Linked DNA regions of Homo sapiens. The protein of the gene in region 4 interacts with the protein of the main gene of each other region in a biochemical or structural test. Each region holds a gene or a part of one and is shown on either strand. Other genes may lie near its edges.

The links.
Region 1: of the proteins of FOXO3 (region 4) and PTPA, one has a biochemical effect on the other in vitro, tested with the Homo sapiens proteins (one study listed by BioGRID).
Region 2: the proteins of FOXO3 (region 4) and ERBIN interact in a test that uses a peptide from one of them, tested with the Homo sapiens proteins (one study listed by BioGRID).
Region 3: the proteins of FOXO3 (region 4) and SMAD4 form a complex in vitro, tested with the Homo sapiens proteins (one study listed by IntAct).

Annotation. Positions count from the first base shown.
Region 1 is NC_000009.12:129,114,415-129,121,438, reverse strand, and holds part of PTPA (serine/threonine-protein phosphatase 2A activator), read right to left. Parts: intron 927-7,024; coding exon 829-926; intron 1-828. UniProt on the Homo sapiens protein: PPIases accelerate the folding of proteins. It catalyzes the cis-trans isomerization of proline imidic peptide bonds in oligopeptides. Acts as a regulatory subunit for serine/threonine-protein phosphatase 2A (PP2A).
Region 2 is NC_000005.10:66,076,558-66,083,053, forward strand, and holds the end of ERBIN (erbin), read left to right. Parts: intron 1-317; coding exon 318-392; intron 393-1,865; coding exon 1,866-1,973; 3' UTR 1,974-5,989; downstream 5,990-6,496. UniProt on the Homo sapiens protein: Acts as an adapter for the receptor ERBB2, in epithelia. By binding the unphosphorylated 'Tyr-1248' of receptor ERBB2, it may contribute to stabilize this unphosphorylated state.
Region 3 is NC_000018.10:51,025,445-51,033,221, reverse strand, and holds the start of SMAD4 (mothers against decapentaplegic homolog 4), read right to left. Parts: upstream 3,010-7,777; 5' UTR 2,599-3,009; intron 1-2,598. UniProt on the Homo sapiens protein: In muscle physiology, plays a central role in the balance between atrophy and hypertrophy. When recruited by MSTN, promotes atrophy response via phosphorylated SMAD2/4.
Region 4 is NC_000006.12:108,556,756-108,563,932, forward strand, and holds the start of FOXO3 (forkhead box protein O3), read left to right. Parts: upstream 1-4,161; 5' UTR 4,162-4,453; coding exon 4,454-5,074; exon of another isoform or gene 5,075-5,268; coding exon of another isoform or gene 5,269-5,388; intron 5,389-7,177. UniProt on the Homo sapiens protein: Transcriptional activator that recognizes and binds to the DNA sequence 5'-[AG]TAAA[TC]A-3' and regulates different processes, such as apoptosis and autophagy.

The DNA.
Region 1 (7,024 bases), on a different chromosome or scaffold from region 4:
AGACATGATAACTATTTCCAAATACTGAGAGGGCAGGCTTGTGAAAAAGGAATCAGACAGGTTTAGATGGCCCCAAGCCCCAGTGAGGACAAGGCATAGAAGCTGTAGGGTGTGGGTCTCCTGGAGAATCTGCCCAGCATGCAAGGACCCCTGTGCCCAGCCTTCTGCATGAGCAACACTCTCCAGCCCAGCTCACCAGGCCGGGAGCAGGAGCCTGACGAGAACTGGGCCAGAGGCCTTCCCTGAGAAATTGAAATTGGCTTTCTTTTGCTCAGTCTGTCTTTCCACAGCCTGTACCACAAGCCTGAGAGGTACAAGTAGTTATCTTCTGCCCATCATTTCAGCTGAGCAGCAGAGAAAGCCAGTCTGTGCCCAGTGCTCTGGGTCCCAGCTCCCAGGTATTTGCAGGCTTAGCCATATCCCTGGCCAAAGTTTCCATGAGATAGCCTCTTCTCCCCTTGAGGCACTGGCTGCCACACTTGCTGTTACTTGCAGCCAAGAATCAAAGTGACTCGCTCCATCATTTCAAACACTCATGTTCAGCCAATACAGCAACACTCAAGGGGCAATGGCTTAAGAGAACCAGGAGCGGAACTCTCCCGGGCTACCCTGGCAGCAGCCTGAAAAAGTAGGCAACCTTCCTGATAAAGCATCTCTGAGTACTGCCTCTGAAGGGAAGAGACAGCCAGCTCCCCTGTCACCTTTCTCCCTAGCTTCTGAAAAGTCAGGCTCCAAGAGCAAGAAGGGCCAGGAACTCACCGCCCGTCATGCTAGGAAAACCACTGTCTTTGAAAAGCCCAAGTTTCTCACCACAGTTCCAAATGGTACCTGAGAACGCTTCCATTTGCCCATGTCTGGAACTGTGTGGATCTCCTTTTTTGGAATGATGAAGTTCTGAGTGGCTGGAGGGGCCTCCTCTGAAGAATCTTGACAAAAAAAAATGAAAAAACAAACAGATAAATAGAATCCTCCCCTACAACACACACACTCCCTTTCACCTTTTTTTTTTTTCTTGAGACGGAGTTTTGCTCTTGTTGCCCAGGCTGGAGTCCAGTGACACGATCTTGGCTCAATGCAACCTCCACCTCCAGGGTTCAAGCGATTCTCCTGCCTCAGTCTCCTGAGTAGCTGAGATTACAGGCACGTGCCACCACACCCAGCTAATTTTTTTTTTTTTCTTTGAGACAGAGTCTCGCTCTGTCGCCCAGGCTGGAGTGCAGTGGCGCGATCTCAGCTCACTGCAACCTCTGCCTCCCGGGTTCAAGCGATTCTCCTGCCTCAGTGTTCTGAGTAGCTGGGATTACAGACGTATGTCACCATGCCTAGCTAATTTTTGCATTTTTAGTAGAGACGGGGTTTCACCATGTTGGCCAGGCTGATCGCAAACTCCTGACCTCAGGTGATCCACCCGCCTTGGCCTCCAAAGTGTTGGGATTACAGGTATGAGCCAAAGCGCCCGGCCTCTCTCTCACTTTTAAACCAGGACTCCAACACCTGAGCCTTAGAATAAACCAGACACATACTTCCAGGACAGAGTAAGGGCTTGTTAAGCCAAACCCACAGCCTCCTGCCCTCCCTCACTCTGGGGAGGAAAGAGAAGGGCAATACTGACAATCCCTTCAATAACCATGCCCTCCCTTCCCTCTCCCCCCCAGAGCAGAACCGTTAGAAAAATAAAACCAAGTTGATGTTTCAGACATACACAGGCAATTCACAGAAGAAAAAAAAACAGGTCAGGTGCGGTGGCTCACGCCTGTAATCCCAGCACTTTGGGAGGCCAAGGCAGGCAGATCACAAGGTAAGGAGATCGAGACCATCCTGGCTAACATGGTGAAATCCCATCTCTACTAAAAAAGTACAAAAAAATTAGCCAGGCGTGGTGGCGGGCGCCTGCGGTCCCAGCTACTTGGGAGGCTGAGGCAGAAGAATGGCGTGAACCTGGGAGGCGGAGCTTGTGGTGAGCCGAGATTGCACCACTGCACTCCAACCCAGGCAACAGAGCGAGACTTCGTCTCAAAAAAAAAAAAAAAACCTAATTGCAGTAAACATTTGGAATAAATTGCCAACCTCCTGAATAAGCACGGACACGTAAATTATATGTGATTTCTCTTTCTGGATAAGGTTGGCAAATTAAAAACATCTGGCTAGGTGTGGTGGCTCATACCTAATCCCAGCAATTTGGGAGGCCAAGGCAGGCAGATCACTTGAGGCCAGGGGTTCAAGACCAGGCTGGCCAACTTGGCAAAACGCCATCTTTACAAAAAAAATTTAAAAATTAGCTGGGTGTGGTTGCATACCTGTAGTCCCAGCTACTTGGGAGGCTGAAGCAGGAGGATCACCTGAGTCCAGGAGGTGGGGGTTGCAGTGAGCTGAGATCATACCACTGCACTCCAGCCTGGACAACAGAACGAGACTCTGTCTCAATAAAAACAAAACAAGATTCCAGGAAGAGGAAACAAGAATTCTCCCGCTCTGTGGGTGGGAAGGACCTCCTAAGGGGACAATCTTTTGGAATAAAAAACTGCATATACACAATGAGTCAACAGGTCTACTTACAGGAATCTATCTTTCAGATGTGCTCACGGAAACACAAAGGTGTTTAATGCATCAAAAAAAAAAAAAAAAGCTGGGCATAGTGGCTCACACCTGTAATCTCAGCACTTTGGGAGCCCCAGGTGGGAGGATCACTTGAGTCCAGGAGTTTGACACCAACCTGGGCAACACAGCGAGACCCCATCTCTACTTTAAAAAAAAAAAAATTTTAGGCGGGGCGCGGTGGCTCATGCCTACAATCCCAGCACTTTGGGAGGCCAAAGTGGGTGGATCACACCTGAGGTCAGGAGTTGGAGATGCGCCTGACCAACATAGTGAAACCCCATTTCTACTAAAAATATAAAATTATTCAGGTGTGGTGGCGCATGCCTATAATCCCAGCTACTTGGGAGGCTGAGGAAGGAGAATTGCTTGAACCAGGAGGCAGAGGTTGCAGTGAGCCAAGATCGTGCCATCGCACTCCAGCCTAGGCAACAAGAGTGAAACTCTGACTCAAATAAAAAAATTTTTTATTAATTAGAAACAACCCAAATAGGCTGGGCGTGGTGGCTCACACCTGTAATCCCAGCACTTTGGGAGGCCAAGACAGGCAGATCACGAGATCAGGAGTTCGAAACCAGCCTGGCCAACAAGGTGAAACCCCATCTCTACTAAAAATACAAAAATTAGCCAAGTGTGGTGGCGCACACCTGTAATCCTAGCTACTCAGGAGGCTGAGGCAGGAGAATTGCCTGAACCCAGGAGGCAGAGGTTACAGTGAGCTGAGATCGTGCCATTGCGCTCCAGCTCTGGTTGACAGAGCAAGACTCCATCTCGGGGGAAAAAAAAAAAAAAGAAACAACTCAAATATCAGTTGATAAGACAATGGGTAAATAATGATATGCCCAGGTCCGGCATGGTGACTCACACCTGTAATCCCAGAACTTTGGGAGGCTGAGGTAGGTGGATCATTTGAGGTCAGGAGTTCCAGACCAGGCCTGGGAAACATATTGAAACCCCATCTCTACTAAAAAATACAAAAATTAGCCTGACATGACGGCACACACCTGTAATCCCAGCTACTTGGGAGGCTGAAGCAGGAGAATCGCTTGAACTGGGGAGGCAGAGCTTGCAGTGAGCTGGACCGTTCCACTGCACTCCAGCCTGGGTGACAGAGTGAGACTGTCTTAAAAAAAAAAAGAGGCTGGGTGTGGTGGCTCACACCTGTAATCCCAACACTTTGGGAATCCGAGGCGGGTGGATCACTTGAGGCCAGGAGTTCAAGACCAGCCTGGCCAACATAGCGAAATTCCACCTCTACTAAAAATACAAAAAATTAGCCAGGCATGGTGGCGCACACCTGTAATCCCAGCTACTCGGGAGGCTGAGGCAGAAGAACCGCTTGAACCCAGGAGGCAGAGGTTGCAGTGAGCCAAGATCACGCCACTGCACTCCAGCCTGGGCAACACAGCAAGACTCCGTCTCAAATTTAAAAAAGAGAAAAAAAAGATAGGCCCACATAATAAAAATTTTCATAGCTTATAAAATGAATAAAATCTAGGCCAGGCACAGTGCCTCCCGCCTATAATCCCAAAACTTCGGGAGGCCGAGGCAGGCAGATTGCTTGAGTCCAGGAGTTTGAAACCAGCCTGGACCACATGGCCAAACCCCATCTCTACAAAAAATACAAAAATTAGCCAGGTGTAGTGGTGCACACCTGTAGTCCTAGCTATTCGGGGGCTGAGGCGGGAGGATCACTTGAGCCCAGGAGGCTGAGGCTGAAGTGAGCTGCACTCCAGCCTGGGTGACAGAGCAAGACCCTGTCTTGAAAACAAAAAAAAATTAGAAACAACCCAAATATCAGTTGATAAGATGATGTGTAATTAATTATATGCCCACATAATGGAAATTTTCATAACTTGTAGAAAGAAGAAAATCTAGACCAGGCACAGTGGCTAACACTTGTAATCCCAGCACTTTGGGAGGCCCAGGCGGCAGGATCGCTTGAGCCCAGGAATTCAAGACCAGCCCAGGCAACACAGGGAGACCCCCATCTCTACAAACAATTTAAAAATTAGCCAGGTGAAGTGGCTCATGTCCGTAATCCCAGCACTTTGGTAGGCAGAGGTGGGCAGATCACCTGGGCTCAGGAGTTCAAGACCAGCCTGGTCAACATGGCGAAACCCTGTCTCTACTAAAAATAACAAAAATTAGCCGGGTGTGGCCGGGCACAGTGGCTCACGCCTGTAATCCCAGCACTTTGGGAGGCCGAGGCGGGCGGATCACAAGGTCAGGAGATCGAGACCATCCTGGCTAACACGGTGAAACCCCGTCTCTACTAAAAATACAAAAAATTAGCCGGGCATGGTGGCGGGTGCTTTAGTCCCAGCTACTTGGGAGGCTGAGGCAGGAGAATGGCGAGAACATGGAACTCGGAGCTTGCAGTGAGCCAAGATCGTGCCACTGCACTCCAGCCTGGTCAACAGAGCGAGACTCCGTCTCAAAAAAAAAAAAAAAAAAAAGAAACCCTGTCTCTACTAAAAATACAAAAAAAATTAGCTGGGCGAGGTGACGCATGCCTGTAATCCCAGCTACTTGGGAGGCTGAGGTGAGAGAATGGCGTGAACCCAGGAGGCAGAGCTTGCAGTGAGCCGAGATCGCGCCACTGCACTCCAGCCTGGGCAACAGAGCGAGACTCCGCCTCAAATAAAAAATAAATTAGTCAGGCGTGGTGGCGAGTGCCTGTAATCCCAGCTACTCAGGAGGCTGAGGCAGGCAGAATCGCTTGAACCCAGGAGGCAGAGGTTGCAGTGAGCCGAGGTCGCGCCACTGCACTCCAGACCAGGCGACAGAGCGAGACTCGTCTCAAAAAAAAAAAATTAGCCGGGCATGGTAGCGCACACCTGTAGTCCCAGCTACTCGCGAAGCTGAGGCAGAAGAATCACTTGAACCCAGGAGGCAGTTGGCCAGGCGCGGTGGCTCAGGCCTGTAATCGCAGCACTTTGGGAGACGGAGGCTGGTGGATCACCTGAGGTCAGGAGTTTGAGACCAAGCCTGGCCAACATGGTGAAGCCCCATATCTACTAAAAATACAAAAAAATTAGCCAGGCGTGGTGGTGGGCACCTGTAATCCCAGCTACTCGGGAGGCTGAGGCAGGAGAATCACTTGAACCCAGGAGGCAGAGGTTACAGTGAGCCAAGATCACGCCACTGTACTCCAGCCTGGGCAACAAGAGTGAAACTCCATCTCAAAAAAAAAAAAAATGCAAACTCTCCCTAAAGTGGAAGAGTAAAGGACTATCATCAATCACTCACAACCTGGTATAAATTTGTCCCCCTGCCTTCCTCCTAAAACCTGGCTGACATCAGCTACATGGAGAAAAAGGGACAGGGACCTAAGAAGTTTCTGGAACATATAACATTTGGAGAAATAGAGCCTGTCTGGAGAGGAACTGAAGAAAAGAAAAGTGCCAGGGGACTTGGAGACCTAAGGAGAAGGATAGAGAACCTGAGTTTAGAGAAAGACAAATCTCTGCCTAACTCAAACCAAGGCCCCAGAAAGAGATCAGAAGCTCTCTTCCTCCTCCCACCTGTCCTGCAAGCTCTGTTCCCAGAACCCAAAACTGCTATTAGTAAATTGGCACTTCAACTAAGATGCCAAATAAAAAGCTTTGTAGGTCAGACTAGTAACCCAACCACATTGCTTTTATGGGAAAATGTGTCCCACATTCCAAATAATCAACTTGGAAATAATCTTTGGGAACATACAGCCCTTTTATATGTGTGAGATCACCATTCTCTGCAAAGGGACAGCTCTCCTCGGAGGTTGCACTGAGCCAAGATCATGCTACTGCACTCCAGCCTGGGTGACAGAGTGAGACTCTGTCTCAAAAAATAAAAATAAAAAAAGGGATGGCACTCCTGACATTATTTAACCGGGATATTTCACAGGAAGAGAGCCTTCAGGCCAGTCCATGTTTGGGAAAAGGCTACCTTACCAGGAAGCACTATAACAAATTACTGATGAAACACACACAAGTTGCCAGAACACACAATCCCAAATCAAAGAAACAAGCCTTCAAAGGCAGGATGGTGATAAATGAGGTCACGCCCACAGTCTCTCCAGCCTCAGGTTATAGAGACATAGGTTCCAAGGGACAGTGGATTCCCAACAACCTCACAGTATAAAATCAACATTCAGAATTTTAGAAATGTTCCTTCCTAAGCCCCCCAACAAAGACTATAATATATAGCATTATCATTGGCCATTTGAAACTCGTCTACATGTTCAACCTGTACAACTTTGAAACTTTGAAAAAGATAAGGGCAATCAGCATTTACTGATCGCCTACTATGTCCCATGCTTTGCACACATCTTATAAAACACATACTACAATTCTATGAAGAAAGTATAGTAGCCTATAGTTATTTTAAGAAATAACTGAGGCTTTTTCTCAGGGAAAAAAAAAGAAATTTTAAAAAAGAGAGAAGT
Region 2 (6,496 bases), on a different chromosome or scaffold from region 4:
GTAATTTGATCAGTTCAAGTTAAAACAATTTAACCAAAAACTATGAATGTTTATGATATAATGAAATGATTTTTAACTTTCTTATTGCTTTTTCACACACCTATAAAAGTAATTTTATTACTCTCAAGAGAAATCACTAAAGTCAGAATTACTAGAGGTAAAAATAACTAGTTTGTTACAGTATTACTCAGAGAAGTCAGGGAGAAAACTTGTACCATGATTCAAATATTTGCATGGTGTGGAGGAAAAATTGCTCCTTGGTACTCTGTTATTTATACATACTGTTTTTAGTTAAATAATTTTTTTTGTTGTTAAAGGGTATATTTGTAACAAGGGTACAACCTGAAGGACCAGCATCAAAATTACTGCAGCCAGGTGATAAAATTATTCAGGTAATTAAAATAAATCTTTTTTTTTTTCATTTTATAACACTCTAATGTTTTCACAGTTTAAAATGTTTTCACTTTAACTTTGAAAATTGTGGGTGGGAGGCTGAGGCAGGAGAATGGCGTGAACCCGGGAGGCGGCACTTGCAGCGAGCCGAGATCGCGCCACTGTACTCCAGCCTGGGCGACAGAGCGAGACTCTGTCTCAAAAAAAAAAAAAAAAAAAGTTTGATACATCATAGGATTTTGTTTAAGCTCAGGAATGTTAATTTTTACTAATTTGAGGGGGATTAGAGTACCACTTCTTGGATGTGGGCTATTGTCCTTTCAGAAATGGAGAAGAAAAATTTTAAATCTGCGAAACTCATTTTTTCCTGTCCCCTCCTTTTCTTTGTTCATTCAGCTACTCATTTTACCTAAACACTTACAGTCTTAGAAGGAAGACAAACCTAGGACACAAGTATAGCTCTCATTTTCTACCCCTACTGTCACCGTTCTTAGCTGAGAACTAAAGAACTTAAAAAATAATCCTCAAACCAAAAAAAAAGGGAGAGAGAGACATTAATGTCTAATAGCTGAAAGTACAGATTCTGAAAGCCAGACTGCCTGAGTTTAAATTCTGGTCCCAACACTTTCTAAAAATAAAACTAATTAAAAAAAATTTTTTTTGAATAATTTTAAGCTTAGAAAAAAGCCACAAAAATACTACAACAAACACCAGTATTACATCAATTGGTCACCAGTCGTTCATAATTTGCTACATTGTCTTTATCATTTATTCTCCTCTTTCTTCTCTTTTTCTCCCTCCCTCCCTCTACACACACACACACACACACACACACACACACACATACACACACACACACAGTCACACTCACTCATACAGTTATACACATTTATTTTTCTGAACCATTTGGGTTTCAATTTGTGACTGAGCAAGTTACTTTGCCTCTCCATGCCTGGGCTTTCTCTTCTCTAAAATAAGATAGTGAAAGAATCTTTTTTGAGCATTATGAGAATCAAAGGATCTAATTCATATTACACCCTTAGAATTGTGTGTTTGGTACACAGTAGAACCTCAGTAAATATTAAGCTTAATTGTAAGAAATATGGTGGTCTTGATGTGATGGCTCCAAGACAATGGGAAGAGTAGCCCTTGCCCCCTGCTACGCTACAGTTTGGTCACCTCAGATACACATTAGCATTATACGACACCATGTCTGACATTATTTCTTAAGTAAGTGATTTCTAACATTGGGCTGCTACATAAGAATTGGCTGAGAAGTTGGACAAAATACACATTTTTAGACCCCATCTTCAGAGACTTTATTCCTTGGTTTGGGTAGGGCCTGTGAATCTGTATGTTATTTTAAGTTGCCAAAGTGATTCTTATTTTCTTCCAAGTTTGTGAACTACTTGGCAGAAATGCAAATAAATAACTATAAAATGTTTTTCCTAAAAGCATTTTTCCTCTTCTAGGCTAATGGCTACAGTTTTATAAATATTGAACATGGACAAGCAGTGTCCTTGCTAAAAACTTTCCAGAATACAGTTGAACTCATCATTGTACGAGAAGTTTCCTCATAAGCACTGTGGACAAAAAAAGCGGGGAAGACAGCAAGATTTATTGGAAGATACTTACAGGGGAAATTAATATTTTGACTATTTTTATATATAAAGAAGAACTCAAAAAATTATGTTCAAATTTGTACATTAATGAAATAATGGAACTTGTGGTTAGAGGGAAAGAACCACTGTACAGAATATAAAGGAGACTGTTGAATTCATACCATATAAAACTTGTTAGGTTTTTAAACATAGCAATCAAGGCTACAAAAACAAACCTGTGTTGTTTTTGTATAGATTGTAGGTTTATTTTTGGATTTCATATACATGACTGAACTGTGTGCAAGGCAATAGTTAGCCTTGATTTTAGCCCAGAGACAGATGGCAGAGCTATCTCTCTCATAGCTTTTATGCCCTTATTTTTATTCAACTGGTATTAATGTTTTTCTCCTGAAACTACTTTTTTTGATGTGGGCAAGAGATTTGAAGTGTTGGCTTTTGCTATGTGCATATTGAATTGAAGAGTGAGTAGGTGAAGGTGGTGCTGGTGGGTTCACTTTCCAAGGCCAGACTAAAACAGTTATTTTCTATAAAAATCTGGAAGCAAAGAATGGGGATGGGGAGAGCTACGTGGTAGTATGTTTTTATTAGGAGAATAATGCAATAAAATATGTAATGTCTTTTTTATAAAGCAAAAAAGACAATAATTGCATTTATGAGCTCGGCAGGATCTGTTCTTGTCATAGCCATTGACTATACATTTGCTACTGGTGATTCAGTTTTTAATTTTTTAGTCACAGGAAATTTTTAACTCTACTGTAGATGCATGTCCATGCATTTTCTGTGTTATGGAAATCCACTGATTTTTTTTTTTTTTTCAAATGGTGGTACTTGCAATCTGTTTTATAATTAGTGCTCCATTTAAATCTAATTTATAATTTTTATTTTAAGCAGCAAATGAAACAAAAATGGCCAGTTTTAAGATTGTGTTGCCTGTAACACAAAATGTTACGAAGGTTTAGGAAAGCCTCTTTGATTTTTGTTTGGCCTTGCATTGCCTTGGTAAAGTAAAAGGAAACAGTACACTTGGAGCTAGGAAACCAAAGCAAGCTTTGTGAAACTGGCACAGTGATAGAGAATTGCTGTGGAGAGTTATAGAGCAAAGGGATGGGTCCTTGAGGCCTGCCAGTGTGTAAAGGTGTTCAAATAAAGGGCTGTTTCTACAGGTAACATTAAATGTGAACTCAACACTTCCAGAGTCTTTAAAGGGTTTCTATGTGTATCAGTGTAATAGTGTTTTACCACCAACTGCCTTTCTTTGTTCCTAGTTACTGTAACAAATATTTGATGATAGAGGTTTATTAATTTTGTTTATCCAGACCATTAATTTTATTTGTTTTTGTTCTATGTAATCAAATAAAATTTGAGTAACATGTAATGGTAAGGATTAATGCATGGTTATTTGGACCAGAAAAAAGTGCCATAGAAGACCAATAACTGTTTAGTTGAGGCTAGTCTGGAACCTTTCATTAGAGCAATATTTGGTTATTGCACTTCATTTTTATTTACTAAGAAATGCAATTTGGGAATTTTTAATCTGTTATGCTTTGTTTATCAACCTTGATTTTAATTAAGACTTTTATAAGACTAGCTTAAAACACCAACCAACATTATTTTTGCAAAAGTGAGTTGGACTCACTTTCCATTCTTGCTAGTCAGAGTAAGTAGGCAGCACTTTTAAAAATATGTGAACTCAAATATTGCACTTCTTTCAAGATGTTATCAATTGGTTATTGTACTGTATAGTTTTAATAATTTTGATTGAAACCCTTTAACAACTCTTTGTAAATTTTAACTCATTTTAGTTGATTTTCAGTACTATTTACATAGGAATTGATTTTTATGGATATAGTAGAAGAAATGTGCTGTATTTTGATAAAATTCACTTATTGTATGTGTGTTGTAATCTAAAAAAAAAAAGAATGACAAACAGCTTCTTTAAGACAAGTCTCGGTGTTCCCTTTATTCTTAGTTTGTTTTTAAATATTAATTTTGGCATTCTAAAATAGCTAACATTTCTTTTATTGATTTCAGATTTTCACAGGCACATTCTACTTTTAATCAGAAATATATTTAATAAGTATAATTGTGAAGTTTTCAACTACTTTACCTTGAACCACATATACCAATTATAATTTTGGAAAAGGAATTAAGCCTCACGGAACAATGGATCTTCAGCAAACCTTAACTTCATTGTCTGCACATTACATTGAAGTATTATAAATGCAACAGATGTTATATGCACTGGCATTTTATCCTACTCTAGTTAGTTAAAATTTTATAGTATTCTTGCAACACATAAAGTTGCGTAAGAAACTTTACCAAGAGGAGTATTATAGCCAAGTTTTCTTTGAAAGTATTGGAAAACTAAAATTAAATGACAAGGACTTTGAATTAGAATTTTGCTGTAATAAAGTTTCAAAATTTGAATAAAATAATTAAATTTTTTGAGGAAGTGGAGAAGACATTTTTAGTTTATATATTGTTGAGTAAATTGTAGTTAAGGCCTATACCCATAACTAACTTTAGTAAGTATTATATAGCAATTCATCAAAACCACAACTGTCTTTTAGTGATTTTGTCTTTAAGAGTAATTTCTTACTCTAACCAGTAAAAAAATAATACTGATCAGAGTAATTTATACGGCATACAATAGTTGATACAATCTAAAGATTTATGCTAATTAAGGAATTATCACTTCATCTGAATCAATGAAATTCTAAAATTCCCTACATATTTATTTTGTAAATATTCTTCTGACCTCTTTGGACTGGATATGAAGATATATATATATACACTTAATTCTTTTAAACACAAAACTTGCCATAAGCAGAACCAAACTTTTAAGTATTAATTTGCTGCACTTAAAAAATCCCATTAGCAGCTATGTAATATTTTTATCAACCAACATTTATTCATTCCAAATTTTTGTATATATCTAGATGAAGTAACACATAGAGGATAGATAACAAACTAATGATGTTTAAACTGGTTTATTTACAAAATTCGGGGTTAGAGAAATTCTCATGAAAAATATACAATTTTTTTTTAGCATTAAAACCCTGTATATCTAGGTGTGGAAGAAGTGTAGTTTATCTCAAATTATTATTATTTACTTCTAAAGGGAGGCATTAAGATGGGAAATGTTTCTCTGATGGAGATTGACGTGTGAAATCTATTTGGAAGGGTATTTTTTTCACTCAGTCTGTTGCATTCTTACAGCCTTCTGTTTTAATGTTCAGTGAATAGGTTTCTTATGAAATGGACATTGAAATAAAAATTATGATTCAAGAGCATTAATTGATGAACAAGTGAACAAGATGCCTCTTTAAAAAAAAAAAAGAAAAAGTAATCTAGACAGGCAGCCAACTCAGACCTTTGGGTATTCCTTTGTTTCTAAATAAGGACCTTCAGAAAAAGTTGACCATATTCTACCTAAAGCTGCTAATTCTTTACAGAATTCATAAGCCCAGGGGATAGTAAGTAGTCATTTAGTTTTGGAAAGTTCTTAAGAGAATGCTATCTTCTACAGTCTCATGAAGCAGTTTTTCAAGATTAGAATCTGTGGTCAGCTATAACGTACAGTCCTAATATCCAACCACCTGAGAAGCTCATCCTAAGCTGAGAAAGCCTAAAATGTTAGAGAATGTTTAGAGAAAACACCTGAAATTTTTTTTAAGAGAACAACCTAGGTTTTATTGTAGAGAACAATCAAAATACTCCTGAACCTTTCTATAGAATCTTTAGGAGAGAGGCTGACAAAAAGAATCCTTCTGTTACAACTTTCTTTTCTAATGTAACAACCAGGGACAATGGTGATCTGTCACGCATCTGCCCATCTAGCTTCTCAATCGGCCCACGGTTTTATTTCAGGATAAAATTTGAGAAACTAGTATCACTGGGGAAGGAAGAAACCTAAGCTGTAAAATTATGCTTTTCCCCTCAAGGGATTCAATAAAGCTTATTTTTCATGAAAACAAGCCTATAAATACTGACTTTCCTTAAACCTAATCAAATTGTGTTCCTCCAAGGTATAGCTTTAGAAGGATCTTCTTTCAGTTGCTCTTTCAAACTTTTCCTTGTTAGAAAAGAAAAACTAATACAAATTGTTAAAAAATTAAAGCATGAGCAGAGAGCATGGATTTTAGATGATTTTAAGTTTCCTCATCTTCATGAAAAGAAGAACCTAATACTCTGAGAAGTAATGCCTGTCCAGAATGCACACTAAACATCTCATATTTGGATCATCCTTCACTGCAGCATCCCTCAAAGGAACATTCATTCTCCCAAGAACAAGAGGAATTGTTTGCAGATAAATTATTCAAGGTAGCAAAATGGAGCATGCTTCAATCTCCTCATCCTGTCCACATACCTACAAAGGACAGAAAAGATTATTAATACTATGATAGGCAAGAGTGTTATGTAATAATAATATTACCAGTTTTGTAAAAAAAAAAAGGGAGTACACTGGATCCATAATTTTT
Region 3 (7,777 bases), on a different chromosome or scaffold from region 4:
CGAGCCTCCATCTCAAAAAAAAAAAAAAAAAAAAATGCTGTGTTATGCTGGTGTAAGTCCTTTAACTGTAGAAAACAATGAAAACATTTTAGTCAGGTTACTTTTATACGCGATTAATGGTCACCTCAGAGTCACCCCATTCATCATGGCTTTAAGACAAAAAAAAATTTTGGGGCGTAACCACACAGTCTTCTAGTTCAACAAAATAAGAGAAATCCAAACATATATAATGACCATTGAAATGGCTAATACAAGATGCTTAAAGAACCACTCTAAAAAAATCGCTGGATTAAAAATGAAAAAAATGGTTAGTCATGAACTAGAGAGGGACAAAATGAACTAAGTTTAAACATCGACAAAACAACATGTTTTCACCAAAATAGGCAAAAATTTAGACAAGCCGAAATATGCAGTTTAAATATAATGAACCCTACAGATTCTGTAGGGTTAACCTCCCTAGCAGAGGCCTCAGTAACTCACACCTCAATTAGAATAGTGTCTAATGATGTTACTATAACACTGGCTCAATCAGAAAAAAACTGCTTCCAAGTGGGAGAGCTGGAGTGTGACTGGGCAGCATAAATTAGGTTAATTCTCGCTCCTTAATTTGCGGGGAGAAAGAAAAACTGAAGGGGAATACAGAAAAAGAATTCACACACAATCGCTCGACTAAAATGTAGCTTAAGAAAGTGAAGCAGAGGTTTTTAAAAGTAAGATTTGCTGCTTCCTAGTAGAGGGAGAATTGCTTCAAACAGCAAAGCTATCATAAAAGATCAATCATTCATGTAAAACTTATTCCAAAATATTTCAAAGTGACTTTCTCGGCACAAATTTTCATTAAGTCTGAAAAACAGATTTGCAGTTTGGTTTTTTCTAAACTCAAGATTTACAATGAAGGCAGTGACCTAAACAGAAACATACACTCCCACTTCAAAAATAAAAAAAACGAAGATGCAATACTTCTTTAAAACTCGCCCAAAAACCTGGAAAGCAAAGAAAAAGCCACTTCTATTAATAGAGTCACAAAATGTTATAACGACTTTTATCAAAAGAAGCTTTTAGTTTTAATTCCAACAACTTAAACCTACATAATTCACCATCGTCTTTAGACCTAAAGCTACTCCGAATTACAAATGCTTGGTCCATCTCTATTACATTTGTTCTGTAACAAACCCATTTAAGTAAACAAAATCATGACAGCATTATGGAAGAAACACTAATTTTAAAAACCGTATTTTTAAATGTTAATCATTTTACAGTTTGGAATATTATGTACTAATCATATCAGAACTTTCCAATATAGAGAGAGTAAGTCCTTAGCATTAAAAAAAAGTTACATTTTAGAACTTCCTAGATTTCAACTGAAATATATATTATCTAGTCTCTGCAGGGTATGGCAAAAGTAATTTATGAAATCCACCATAAAAATTATTCAAATGCCTTGTTCTAAATCTAATTACGAAATTACGCATTTTTTTTTTTTTGATACTAAATGGTTTTTGCCAGCAAAAAGGAGTGAACCTACTTCTTAAAACACCCGAGTAACCAAGCTGCTACTAAGACTAGAAGGATGCTAATTCTGGCAAAAGTCAAAGGTTACTAACAAAAATTAGCTAAGATTATATGTTTGCAGAAAGTCAATTCAGGGTAATTCCGCTATTATCCTGTTGTGTTTATTATTCCTAAATAACTGGCAATTCCACCTTAAACTACGGTGCAAAAACTAAATGCATTAAGAAACTAATTGGGAAATAAATGTGTTTTTTTAAATAAAAACAAACGTACTTAGGTTTTTGAAGGGAAACAGCTATCAATCTTCAACAGGGCTTTTTAAAGCCTCTGCACCAGCAAATAAACCTTTCAGGTTAACTAAACACACTTGTGTCTTTGAAAATCTAGTTTGAGAAATCCTAACAGCAGTTTGGGACAAGTGATGGAGCCACCGCCCTCCACCCTACACCAATTTCACTGTCAGTACATGCAGTGCTAACAGTAAGATCAGCTGTGTCTTTTATTAGGAAGCATGTTTTATTGGGGGCAAGGAGGGGTTCAGTTAGGTGCTAAGAATGTGTCCTGCATACCGCTGTCACTCTCAGTACTCAAAAAGTAAACATATCAAAGCCAGAAGCGTAAACTGGCATGACAAGACTAGGAAGAGAAAGTAGGGGACAAAGACAAAACAGAAATTGGCTGGAGAAAATAAATTTAGACAAACAATTTACAACTTTCACTTAGACCCTAAGGCAACACATTCCAGCCGACCCAACGCGCTCAGCCGGGGCGACCGTGAAACTACTGAGAACAACAAAGAGGAGCGGCGGCCGCGGCAGGAGTCCCGTCCGAGTTTAACTTGATTCTCCCACGAGCTGCAAGCGGAGCTGGGGGCCCGAGGGACGCGAGGCACCGCCGCCCGGCATTCAGCCGGCCCGCCCGGCCCGGCTCGTCAGGCCGCCGCGGTCGCCCTCCCAGAGGATTCCGCGCGCTCCCAGCCGCCGCCGCCGCCGCCGCCGTCGTCGGGAGCCCGCCCCGGGGCGGGGAAGCCACAGGCGGGGTGCGCGGGCCCGGCCGGGGGAAGGGGAGGGGACATGGCGCGGTTACCTGGGCTCGGGCGGTGGCGAGGGGAGTCCGCTCTCCCGCGCTGCTGGTCCGCGGACGCACCGGGCCCGTAGCTTTCCCCGGCGGCCCGGAGAGCTCCTCGGCCCCCGCCCCGAGGCGTCCCGGCCAGGCCGCCCCTCCTCAGCGCCGCGCCGCTGCCCGCGCGGGCCGGACCGCCTCGAGCTCCCGGGCCGCCCTGCGGCGGGGGGCCTCTCTCGCTGGGCGCCTGGCTCCCCTCACCCGCTCCCACCCCCTGGGCGGCCGCGGAGCCTAGGGGAGAGCAGGAAGGGCCTCCCGAGGAGAGCGGGAAGGCGCGAACGCAGGCTCCGCCACCCAAACCGCTCCGTTACCGCAGCGGCGACGACGACCAGGGCCGTGTTGTTGCTGCCAACTTGTCGAGAAGCCACTGAGCATGCGCGCGCGGGGACCACATCCGGGTAATTTCAGGGTTTGGCCCTTTTCCCCCGCAGCTTTCCTTTCTCCCGGCTGCCCCCGCCTCCCGCTCCGAGTGACGGGGAGGGTCGCTCTGCGCAGGCGCCTACAGGGCAGCGCCAGCCGGCGGGCGGCTCTGAATCTGGACCTGGGCCTGGGCCTCAGCGCGGGCGGAGGCGAAGGCCTGTTTGAGGGAGTGGTCGCCGGGGAAATTGGCATCTCGTTGCAAAAAAGTATCCAAGGAGCGCGGGAGAGCTCGGCGTAGAGTGGGCGTCCAGTAAGTGTTTATAAATAGCTATTAGCCCGGCCTTTGTTGTTTTTTTGTTTTGTTCTGTGTTGAGGACCTGCGTAGGCACAAAAATTGGCCTTCAACAGCCAGTCGACAGCTCTGGGGAGAAGGTGGCTAGGTTGTAGGAGTTCACTTCGGGAAGAAACAGACGCTGGCGGCACCTTCCTTCTCTTTCTGGCAGCCCCGAATCACGAGCCCCAGAGGTGTTTACACTCGAGAGACGCACAGGACAGTCAAGGAATCACATATTGAAGAGCCTTGCCAGGCGTTGCAAGTGTGAGTGGATTTTGTTGGAAGAGATGTAGGCGCACTCTCGGAGCTGGAGGCGAACTTCGAATCCTACGACACACCTGTTAACTAGGTTACCTGTTTGTTTGGTGGGGGAAGGCATAGGCTCTGCTTTTGACTTTATGCCTCTTTTATTTCACATTTTTTACAAGACGCATGCATTTCTTTTTCATTTAAAACGCATTAATGATTTATTTTCACCAACCAGGAACTACTTTTAGTCCCTCCAAAACCAATGATTAGCCAGTTCTAAAGTCATTTCTTAGGTCACGTCGCCCAGAAAATCTCTACACCCACCGTACGCCTTCGCCACTCATACTCAGTGCTTCATTCTATCCTCCACATCACCGCCTGGGCCATTCCCTCTTTGACCAGAAAGCCCCTAAAGCTCCAAACTGGTGTTCTCTTACCCCTGGGGTTTATGGAGACCAGTTTTAAGGGAATTCATTTCCACATCTTCCATTGCTATATATTCTATTTTCTAAACTTGCCCAGCTTGAGAAAGGAGCTGAGGACACAGCATCCCCTTTCAAAACTGTCCTCCCACCTTACAGAAGAAAGTCAAAATTCTCACCCACTACTAAGGTGCATGGGATCAATGCAGAACCTCCCCAGCAATCCAAAAGGGACAATTCAAAAATCGGTATCTATGCTGAGAAAGTAAATGACCTTAGTGAATGGATATTAAATTATTTTTCAAGTCAGATAGTTTTCAAATCTTTTCTGTCAACAAAACTGAAGGAAGATCTGTCAGCTGATAGATTACAAAACATGATTTGGTAACAGATCAATATGTGAATCTTAGGTAATATACCTCAGAAGAAGTTTTTAAGAAATTGAGACATTGTTATAACTAAACTTCTTCTATTCCGTCTGTATTAGTTACCTATTGCTGTATAACAATCTCACCACAAATATAGAAGCCTAAAACAACAAACATTTATGATCTTACAGATTCTCTGAGTCAGGATTCCAGGCATGGCTTAGCTGGGTCCTCTACAAAGTGAGGCTGGAACAAAGGATCTGCTTCCAAGTTCATGTGGTTGTTGGCACCATTCAGTTCCTTGCAGGCTACAGGACTGAGGGCCTTAGTCCTTTGCAGGCTGTTGGCTGGAGACCCCCTCTGTTCCTTGCCATGTGGTGCTCTCCATAGGGAAGCTAACAATATGGCAGCTTGCCTCTTCGAAGCCAGCAACGGGAAGAGTCTCAGCAAGACACTGGTTTCAATCTTATGTAACATCATCACATACACAGTATCACTCATACTCTGTCACCTTTGCCATACATTGCTGGCCAGAAGCAAATCACAGGCGCCACCTACATTGAAGGGGAAGGAAACACACAAAAGCTTGAACACCAGGAGGTGGGAATCATATGGGGCCTCTTTAGAGTCTACCACACCATGTATTTATTTATGCAAATGATATTCCCTGTAAGCTCAACCTCTTCTCAGAATTTCCCTTCAGGTTCCCTTCACCTTTTTACTTAAGGAAACCCAACTTTGCCCTGGGACACTGCTCCTCCTTCCACCTCTCAAGTAGTGGCAACTGTGTTTTCTTTCTTTTGTTTTTTTTTTTTTTTCATTTTTAAAATAGATCAGTTTTATTCTGCTAGTTCCATAAAAACAATGTAAACGCAAGCGTTCTGTACATCTTGCTGGTGAATTCACATAACGTTTAGTTTCCTGATCCTTGACCTCCTCGTCTTCTCCAGTTATTTTCTGTTTGGACTACTGGCCACAGGAGTGGAGTGGGATTGGGGCTTAGGAGAGACCAATGTGGCCTTTTGGTATGACTTGTTTTATTGCTTGCCCTCTCAGCACACTCCTGTTACTCCTAACACAAAGGTTGAGATTTAAGCCCTTAAACCTGTAGGTTTCACCGTCAGCTTTTTCTTTTTTTTCTTTTTTTTTGGCATAGGCATTACTAGGGACGTGAATGGGAGACTGGTATAGAAAGTGGTGAGGAGCCGAAGCCAACAAATTGCTTTAAACACAAGATGAAAATGCTCTGTTCTGTCCTCACGAAGAATCACCTAATACTGGTGTGAGGCATCTCACTTAGCTGTAGAAAAGTCCTTGGAATTAGATCTCAGATAGTTCCAGCTTTAAGACAGTAAAACCTTTTGGCAATGGGCTAATTGCCTTAAAGGAAAGAAGAGTTCTTACTTGAAAGACCTTGCAGGTGGAGAAATTGTCCTACAAAGATTCTTGGAAATGTTAGTGGAGATAACTGACATGGGTAGCTGTGGGACAACCAGGAACTGTCAACAGCCCGATCTCAGCAAAACCAGAACAGCCAGTTAATAGTTCTTCAGTTCTCTGATGGTCACAAATGTAATTTTATTTTATTTAGCCTTGTGGAGGTTCTGCAACAAATGTAATTTTAAAGGAATTGGGAGCCAGAAAGATAAATGCAACTCCTTCAACTATGTGACAGGGCAGACTGGTTAATCTGGGTTCCCAGAGTGTGGAGCAAGTGCCCTGTATCAGAGAACAGCCCAGGGGGAACTTGCATGATGCCGAACCCCACAGGACAGAACTACTTCCGGCAACTGTGTTTTCAACCTTCAGCTTCTTAGTGCCTGGAGGTGAGATAGGTTTCCTTCTTGCTTCTCAACATTGCTTCCAGGTCATCCCCCTCCTCCTCTAAACCGGCAGCTTTAAATCTTGCTGTCCGATACCTCTATCGCTGACCTCACCCCGCTTCATCTCTGCACAATTTGCTCCTGACATTCACTCCAATGCCACTTCTGTCCTAGTGGTAGGTGGTTATAAGATCTTCCCAGTACCCTGGCCTCTCAGTTCCTTTTCTTCTTCTCAAGGATCTTCTTCATTGCTTCAATTTTATGATCTTACAGTTTCTCTGGGTCAGGAGTCCAGGCGTTGCTTAGCTGGGTCCTCTACAAAGTGAGGCTGGGATAGCGGATCTGCTTCCAAGCTCATGTGGTTGTTGGCAGCATTCAGTTCCTTGCAGGCCTCAGGACTGATAGCCTCAGTCCTTCCTGGCTGTTGGCTGGAGACTCCCACTGTTCACCATTAACCTCAGGTAGACCCTTAGTGCTGTTCAGCAATTCTCTTATACTTCCCTGATCCACTCTTCTGGATTTTATACCTTCTCTGTCCTCTAACTTACACATCCTCCCCTTGATCATTCTAGATTTTGTACCTTCTCTAACTTCAAACTTGCACATATCCTAACTCAGCCACTTCCTCCCATGGTCATAATCACCGTAGCCTTATCAAACTCTGCAACTTCTTCATTATCTCAGTTTCAAACATCTCACACCCTGATCACTACCTCAGTTTTCCAGATCACTCCCTATAGTACTCTAACTGCAACAATTCTTGAACCCTCATATCTGCTGTCACCCAGCCTCAACCCCCAGCCAATCACAATCACTCTTACACATGCCCTCAGCCCCCTTGCCTTTTTTTCCCTTTGTTGTGCTTGCTTGGCAAAGCCACAACCCTGATTCAAGCTGGCACCCATGCATCTGAATGTGGCGAGAGAAGAACACAATCACACTGACTACCTTCACTTTAATTTCATCACCATGAACCTCAGATAGACCCTTAATGCTGTCCAGCAATTCTACTTCCCGCCTCCATTCTTCTGGATTTTGTACGTTCTCTGTCCTCTAAGTTGCATGTCCTCTCCTCAATCATTCTCAATTAATAGCCTTGTTTAGAAAATTGAAGCAATGAGAGAAAAAATTCCACAGAATCTCAGCATCACCCACACCCACATACCAGCCTCTACTTTGCCTTCCCCACCCTCACATGGTTGAATTGCCGTGCTCCTAGCTAAAGGAGTATTGTCACCAAGACATAGATTCCAGTACTATCTTGCCTAATCAAGATCCTCACTGTCACTCCAGCAATTATCCGCCTATTCTGTTTTATCAGTATTTCTCTACTGGGTCATTCTGATAAGCTTACAAGCAGCTGTGATTTTTCCAATCCTACAGATTCTTCTCTTTGACCTATTTCTACTGTCAGCTATCACCTATTTCTCTACTCCCTTTACAACAAAACTTCTAAAAGAGTTTTCTATACTTTGTCTGCAGTTCTTCTCCCATTCTGCAACAGCAGAATACATCCCATACAATACCATTTATACAAAGTTCAAAAACATGTCAAGCATGATACGTATGTTAAGACTCCATACATAT
Region 4 (7,177 bases):
TTGCAATATTTCTTTTTAACATGTTTTATACCCCCAAGTAACATGTCTTATACCCTCAAGTAAGCTCTTTGAGGGAAATGGCTTTATCATGTGCCTGCCCCCCATTCCTCACTGTGAAGTGAAGCTCACAAGGCTCTGTTAATCCACTGAATCTTTGACTCCTCCACTCTTTTGGAATGCCCCTGGGATATGTGTTCTGTAAATGGACACTCAACATGTTTATAGTGAAAATCTAATGGCCGAGAGCCCAGCCACTGTAAACACATTCTTTCTACTTTTGCAGGTCTGCACTCTAATGACAAAAGATTGCTTAGATTTAGAGAAGAAAACGCGTGGATTTCTTCTACAGTGTTACAAGTATTTAAAGCCAGCAACGAAAATTCTTGGAATTTTATGCTGCATCACGATGCGCGGCCCTGGGTGATCTAGCCTTCCAGTTCTTCGTGCAAAGCTGAATACCAGCTTTTAACCACCACCATACCCAACCCGCACCCCAAGCACTGGCACTTGAAGCCGAGTTGTGGTCATACATCACCATCCACACTCCCAGGCTGTAAACCCAATGCAAACCTGGGGCTTCTCAGTGGGACAGGCCTACAAGGAGAGGAGAGGTGCCTCGTGAGGAGGAGCCACCGCAGTAAGCAGTCAGAGCCCCCTTCCCCAGACTCCCCCTTCCAAGGGCAACCCGAAATAGCAGAAACGCTTTTATATGTGGGCAGAGCCGCATGCCCACGAGACAGGCACATGTGGACTGCGGGCATTCGGTACAAGGAAGCGAGGACACAGAGTACGTAGGGTGCTGAGGGTCCACCTCGCAGCCAAAGTATGTGTGCCAGTGAGTGTGTGCAGCTTGTGAGATCTGCTCTAGAAACCGTGGCCGCGGACTGGCGCGGCCTCCTGGGCGAAGCACAAACAGGAGGCTTTGTTCCCTGAATGTGAGAATGAGGGAGCCGAGCTGGGCGCAAAGACGGCGGCGTTCCGCGGCGGGAAACCGTCGTCTCCGCCGCGGCTCGGGCAGCGCGCGAAACTCTCAATCAGGTTCCCCGGCCCGGGCCGCCGGCTATGCCAGCGGCGCGCAGTGGGGACAGCCTAGCTGTCTCGCGAGCAGCGCCCGGAGAGGCCGCGCCGCGGGCCCCGCCGCGTCCCTCCGCCAGCGCGGGCGGCCCCACGCGCCCGCCACTCGGCAGCGCAGCCAGCGCCACATTCCATTTAAAAATAACACCCACGTGCGCTGGTAAACAAGCGCGCGCGGCTACCAGGGCCGCGCGCCCCGGCCCAGTGTGTGTGGCGCGCGCCCGCCCTCCTCCCGCACGTGTCGGCCGGCGCCATTCAGTCCCCGCCCCCTCGGCGGGTCGCGCCCCGCCCCCGAGCCCCCAGCCCCGCCGCTCCGGGCCCTAGCGCCCCCTACCCCGCCAGGCGCGCCCAGTCGAGTGCGCTGCAACTTTCCTCCCCCGACGCCTCCTCTTCGCTGGCAGACCCACCGCCCCAAGTCGGCTGCCTTCCTCCCGTCCGCTGTCCTCTCGCGTCCCCCCTTGAACCCTCCCACCGCCAGCGCGCGAAGGATTGGTTTCTAGTGCGCCCTCTCCCTTTTTCCCTCTCCTCTCTCTCCTTCCTTAGAATTTTACTCGATTGTTTATTATTTGCTGGGGGGCGGGGGCGGGGGGGCGGAGAGGGGCGTCTGGGGCCTGGAGACTGGTGGCCGCGGCCAGTCAGCGCGCGGCGTGCCTTGACGAGTAAGCGGCGCAGCGAATGGCGACGCGGCGGAGAGCTCCGGGGTCACGCGCGTGTGGATACGATGACATCATCTGTTTGTACGCGTCGAACTAGCTTGGTGCAGGGGCGGGGCCGCGCGTCACTTGAGTGACGGGCGCTGCGCAAAGCCCGGAGCCCGGAGGCGGCTGGGCGGGCTGGCTCTTGCGTACGCTGGGCTGGACCTTTTTGTGTATGGGGTCGTTGAGGAGCCCGCTTCTACACTCTGAGCTATCTCCGGTGACTTACAAGGATTTTTTAAAAAATATATTTATGAACTAGTGTGTAGACTTTTGGTGTGCATGTCGCGTGTGGTGCATTCGTAGAGTACAAATAAACGATTTGGGGCACGGATCGTAGAATAAGGACTTGTGCAGATGTTTTTCGTTTAACCTAAAGGATACGTCTTTTTTTAAAAGTCAAAAATGCCCACGTAGCGGTTTTGTCGTCATTTACAAATTAGATTAAAATTATTTCCCCTTCTCAGTTGTTCGGAATCTGCTCTTGAATGTAGGACGGGGGTAAATTTGCATTTCTTCCGGAGTTAGTTACACCTCTCCCCCGTTTGCCATGAAACCCATGAAAAGTGAAACACGACTGTGGTCCACCGTCCGAGGTGAGAGACTCAGTGCAAACCTTTTGGTGCCTGATCGAATCTGTGAGCATCAGCTTATCGAAGTTGTGCAGGCACCAACATCTTCGCCGTTCAGTATTTCCACACCGCGATAACCCTGCCCATCTTGCGGCCAGCATCTTATCTCGGGTGTTACCTGGTGTCGCGTTCTAACAGGGAACCGGACACCGGGGCTGGCCCAGAGCCCGGCGGGCGGACGCGCAGGCCAGGGACCCCCTGGTACCAGGCGCCCTGCCCGGAGTCAGGGAGGCCACGCCGCTGCGCTCCTTGGAGCGTCGGGGGCTGTGCGCTCCTGCCGCTCCCCCTTCTCCCTCCTCTCCCCACTTCTTCCTCCTCTCCTCCCTTCTCCCCCCTTCTCCCTCCTCTCCCGGGCCAGCGCCGCGCTTTGTTGTCGTTGAGACTCTCGGGAGGGAGGAGGAGCCCAGCGGGGACAGCAGCGGGAGCCCGCCGAGTCCCGGCCCACGGCGCGCGCCCGGACACCCACGCCCGCAGCCCCGCGGAGCCGGGCCGCGCAGGCGCGCGCGAGCTCACACACGCGCACTCACACACGCACGCCCGCCGCGCGCCCGGCCCGCCGCCCAGCCCGCCGCCCAGCCCTCCCCCTGGGCGGGGACCCGCCCGCCGTCAGCCTAGGTTGAGGCGCCCTGCGTGTGTCTATAACTTTGTGCTGCTGCCGCGGCCGCCCTGCTCGTGGAAGGGAGGAGGAGGAATGTGGAAGGTGGCGGCGCGCGAGCTGACAGGCGGTTCCTCGGGCGGGCTGCGGCGACGGCCCGAGCGCTTCTCCTTCGCCGAGGTTGCGCGCCCCCTCCTCGCCGTGCCCCGGGCCCGCGCGGGATCGTGCGTCGTCCCGCCGCGTCCCTGAAGGGAAGGAAGCGAGGTAGGCGCCGGAGCCGTGCAGCGGGCGGCCGCCTTCCCGGTGACTCCGGATCTGCTTCCGAGCTGGGCCGGGCGCTTCCCTTTCCCCTCCCTGAGCCGCGGTGTGCGCGCCCCCCTTCTCGCCCGCTAGTGTTTTTAAAGGACTCGGGAAGGGGGAAACTGTCAAGATGGCAGCAGCGGGAGCAAGGAGGTGATGAACGTGCTGGTCCGGGTTTTCTAGCAGCCCGGGAGACTTGGCGCTTCCCGACCTGTTGGAAGATTTATGTTCCGACTCGCTCCCTCCCCCGGATCCCGACTGGGAAGGGGGCGGAGGGGACGACGTCCGCGAGAATGCAAACCACACAAAACCCCGAAGTGGCCGTCCCCGCCGGGCTCGAACCTCTGCGAACACCCGCTGGGCTGCTGCTCCCCCTTCTTTCTGTCTTTCCTTTATTTTTTGGAAGTGACAAGGGCCCATCTGCGCCCAGACCCCCGTTCGCCCTCTGGCCCGCGGGCGAAGAGGGGAGAGGGAGCTGCCCGCGCAGTCCCCGGGCTCGGGCCATTCGACCGGGTGGGGGGTGACGGGGGGTCGCGGAGGCGGCCAGGCTAGGAAAGGGGAGAAGAGCCGAAGACAGCACAGACTTGAGCGGCGGCGCCGCGGGAGGCACTAGAGCGGGCCCGAGCGAAACATAAACAAACGCACGCACACCCGAGCTCGGGCTCTGACCGCGGCTCGGCTGCGCCAGCTCCGGCCGCTGCCCGCTTTAAAGGCGCGGCCGCCCCTCCCCCGGGCGCCCCTCCCCCTTCTCCCCGCCCCGCCGCCTAGCCCGGGAGGGACCTGCGGCTGGGCGGCGGGGGGAGGGGGCTGCCCCGCGCGAGGCCGTCGATTCGCTCGCGGCTCCATCGCGGCCTGGCCGGGGGGCGGTGTCTGCTGCGCCAGGTTCGCTGGCCGCACGTCTTCAGGTCCTCCTGTTCCTGGGAGGCGGGCGCGGCAGGACTGGGAGGTGGCGGCAGCGGGCGAGGACTCGCCGAGGACGGGGCTCCGGCCCGGGATAACCAACTCTCCTTCTCTCTTCTTTGGTGCTTCCCCAGGCGGCGGCGGCGGCGCCCGGGAGCCGGAGCCTTCGCGGCGTCCACGTCCCTCCCCCGCTGCACCCCGCCCCGGCGCGAGAGGAGAGCGCGAGAGCCCCAGCCGCGGGCGGGCGGGCGGCGAAGATGGCAGAGGCACCGGCTTCCCCGGCCCCGCTCTCTCCGCTCGAAGTGGAGCTGGACCCGGAGTTCGAGCCCCAGAGCCGTCCGCGATCCTGTACGTGGCCCCTGCAAAGGCCGGAGCTCCAAGCGAGCCCTGCCAAGCCCTCGGGGGAGACGGCCGCCGACTCCATGATCCCCGAGGAGGAGGACGATGAAGACGACGAGGACGGCGGGGGACGGGCCGGCTCGGCCATGGCGATCGGCGGCGGCGGCGGGAGCGGCACGCTGGGCTCCGGGCTGCTCCTTGAGGACTCGGCCCGGGTGCTGGCACCCGGAGGGCAAGACCCCGGGTCTGGGCCAGCCACCGCGGCGGGCGGGCTGAGCGGGGGTACACAGGCGCTGCTGCAGCCTCAGCAACCGCTGCCACCGCCGCAGCCGGGGGCGGCTGGGGGCTCCGGGCAGCCGAGGAAATGTTCGTCGCGGCGGAACGCCTGGGGAAACCTGTCCTACGCGGACCTGATCACCCGCGCCATCGAGAGCTCCCCGGACAAACGGCTCACTCTGTCCCAGATCTACGAGTGGATGGTGCGTTGCGTGCCCTACTTCAAGGATAAGGGCGACAGCAACAGCTCTGCCGGCTGGAAGGTGCGTACCCACCCCGGGCTGGCAGCAGGACCCGCCGGGCCTCCTGCGCAGCGCGAGACGCGTCTCGGATTCGTCGGAGTGCGCTTGCGGGCTCCAGGGCAAGGGGTTGGCAGGGGGAGCCTCCGCTGCGAGGCTTTGGGGGTTATCTTTGATCCCCGGAGTCGGGGCACCTGGGGACGGTCTCGGAGGGGTGAATGAGGCTCCCCAGAAGCTTGGGGCATGGCCAGGTGAGGAGAGGGGGCAGGGGACGCCGGCGAGGGAAGGGCGAACGGACAGGAGTACATTTGCTGGATTCTCCGGACAGCACCGAGGAGGTAGGTCCGCAGCCAACTTTGGAGTAGAGTTTACCGTAGTGGGGGTCTGGTGCGGGCGCTGTGGCTGGAGTGAGAGGTGTGGGGGTGTTTGGGACGCAGTGTCTGGAGGAGGGGTTGGATGTGTGGTTTCCAGTCTGTCGCAGGAGCATGTTGCGTCGTCACTAGCTGAATGAGAACCTTCGGGTCCAAGTTTCAGCTTGTGGGTGTTAACACCTACAGGCACATCGATCCGATTAGAAAAAGCAGTGGTTGCAAACCTTTTCCTGGACGGCTTCCTTTCCTTGCCTATATTGATACCTTTTCTTCTCGGAGATGTCGCTCCAGTAAACCTGCTTCTGACTAGCTGCTTCTGAAATGTTCTGGGGCCTCGAACCGGCCGGTCTGGCCACCTCAATCCAGACTGGCTGCACCCGCTGCTCCCGCCGAGGCCTGGATTCAGGCACTGTTTGAGGGAAGGGCTCTGGTGTGGGGGACGCGGGGCCTGCGCTTCATTCACTCTGGCGTTTGGGAGGAGGTTTGGGGGCTGGGCCGGGCCGTAATGGCTTCTACCTGTAAATGAACCCGAAGAGAGACTCTCTACCGTTCCTTATCATCCTCTTGGGGCACGGGACACGTGGTAGGGAGAGAGGTGTGGAAAGGCCTATGATGTAATGACTTCCTGCAGTTGGGTATCCAAAGAGATTAACTCCTCTGCCCCTGCTGGGCTGCTGATATCCAGCTGCTTTCCTCTTCCTAGGCACCTCCCTGGCCCCTTCCCCCAAGACAGTGTGTGTCAGTACCAGGCCAAAGAGTCCTGTGCGATTGGAGATATACATCTCTTATCAGCTGCCCATATTTGCAATTTAGCTTAGATTTTTTTTTGTTTTGTTTTATGTAAAAGAAGTAGTTGCTTCCTCCTTCCCTTTCTTCATTGTCATTGGGGAGCCCTCTGTCTTCCTGGGTTTCAGGAGGTATAAAAATAAGAACAGTTTAATCTTAGTGGAGAATTCAATGGAAGCACTGGAGACGAGCCTGTAGATGAAAAAGTTAAAGAACTTAATGTAGAGAATGTTTTATTTTGCTTCTAGAAAACCCTTGCAAAGTTAAATACGGCTTATATCAGAGAGGCTTTGTATTAGATACTTTAAAAGCAAAACACGTGTGCTTTGATATTAATCCACTAATGTGTCTCATTTCTTTTAACAAATGCTTACATTATGAGTCTTATATTTGGTTTAATTCAATTGCTTTGTAAAAGAATGCCAGGTGTATGATACGAGAGTTCTTTACAGAAAGGATGAAAGTTAGACAATTCCATTTGAAAAGAGCACTAGTGTGATATGTTTTAAAACTGGGTTTCCAAGTGGATGGGAAGGGTTAATCAGTGTATAGTATCAGGAAGGCGTAAGCGGACAGGATCTGAGAACATGGATTTGGGGGTTCGAAATGTTTTTCAGATTTCTCTCACTTGAAATTTAGTCTTGCATGTTTGAATTTGGTGAGGAGAATACGTTAGTGAAAAGTTAGTTAACTTTAAACTTAGTTAAAACGTTAACGTAGGAAGGCGTTTTCACCTTTCCTGTGATTTTTAAGGTTACAAAAATAATTTAATTTCACAAATATTTCTTGTTATTTTGTTTATAGTTAAATATAATAAGTTTAATGAACTTTATTTTTGGGGGGAAGATTTACATGAGATAATGGTATTACCAAAAGTAGCCGCGAATTGAGATTGGGCTAGATACATTTTCATATAGTTTGTAGGACTTGCAATACAGATTTTGGGACTAGTCATAAACTTTATGGTTTT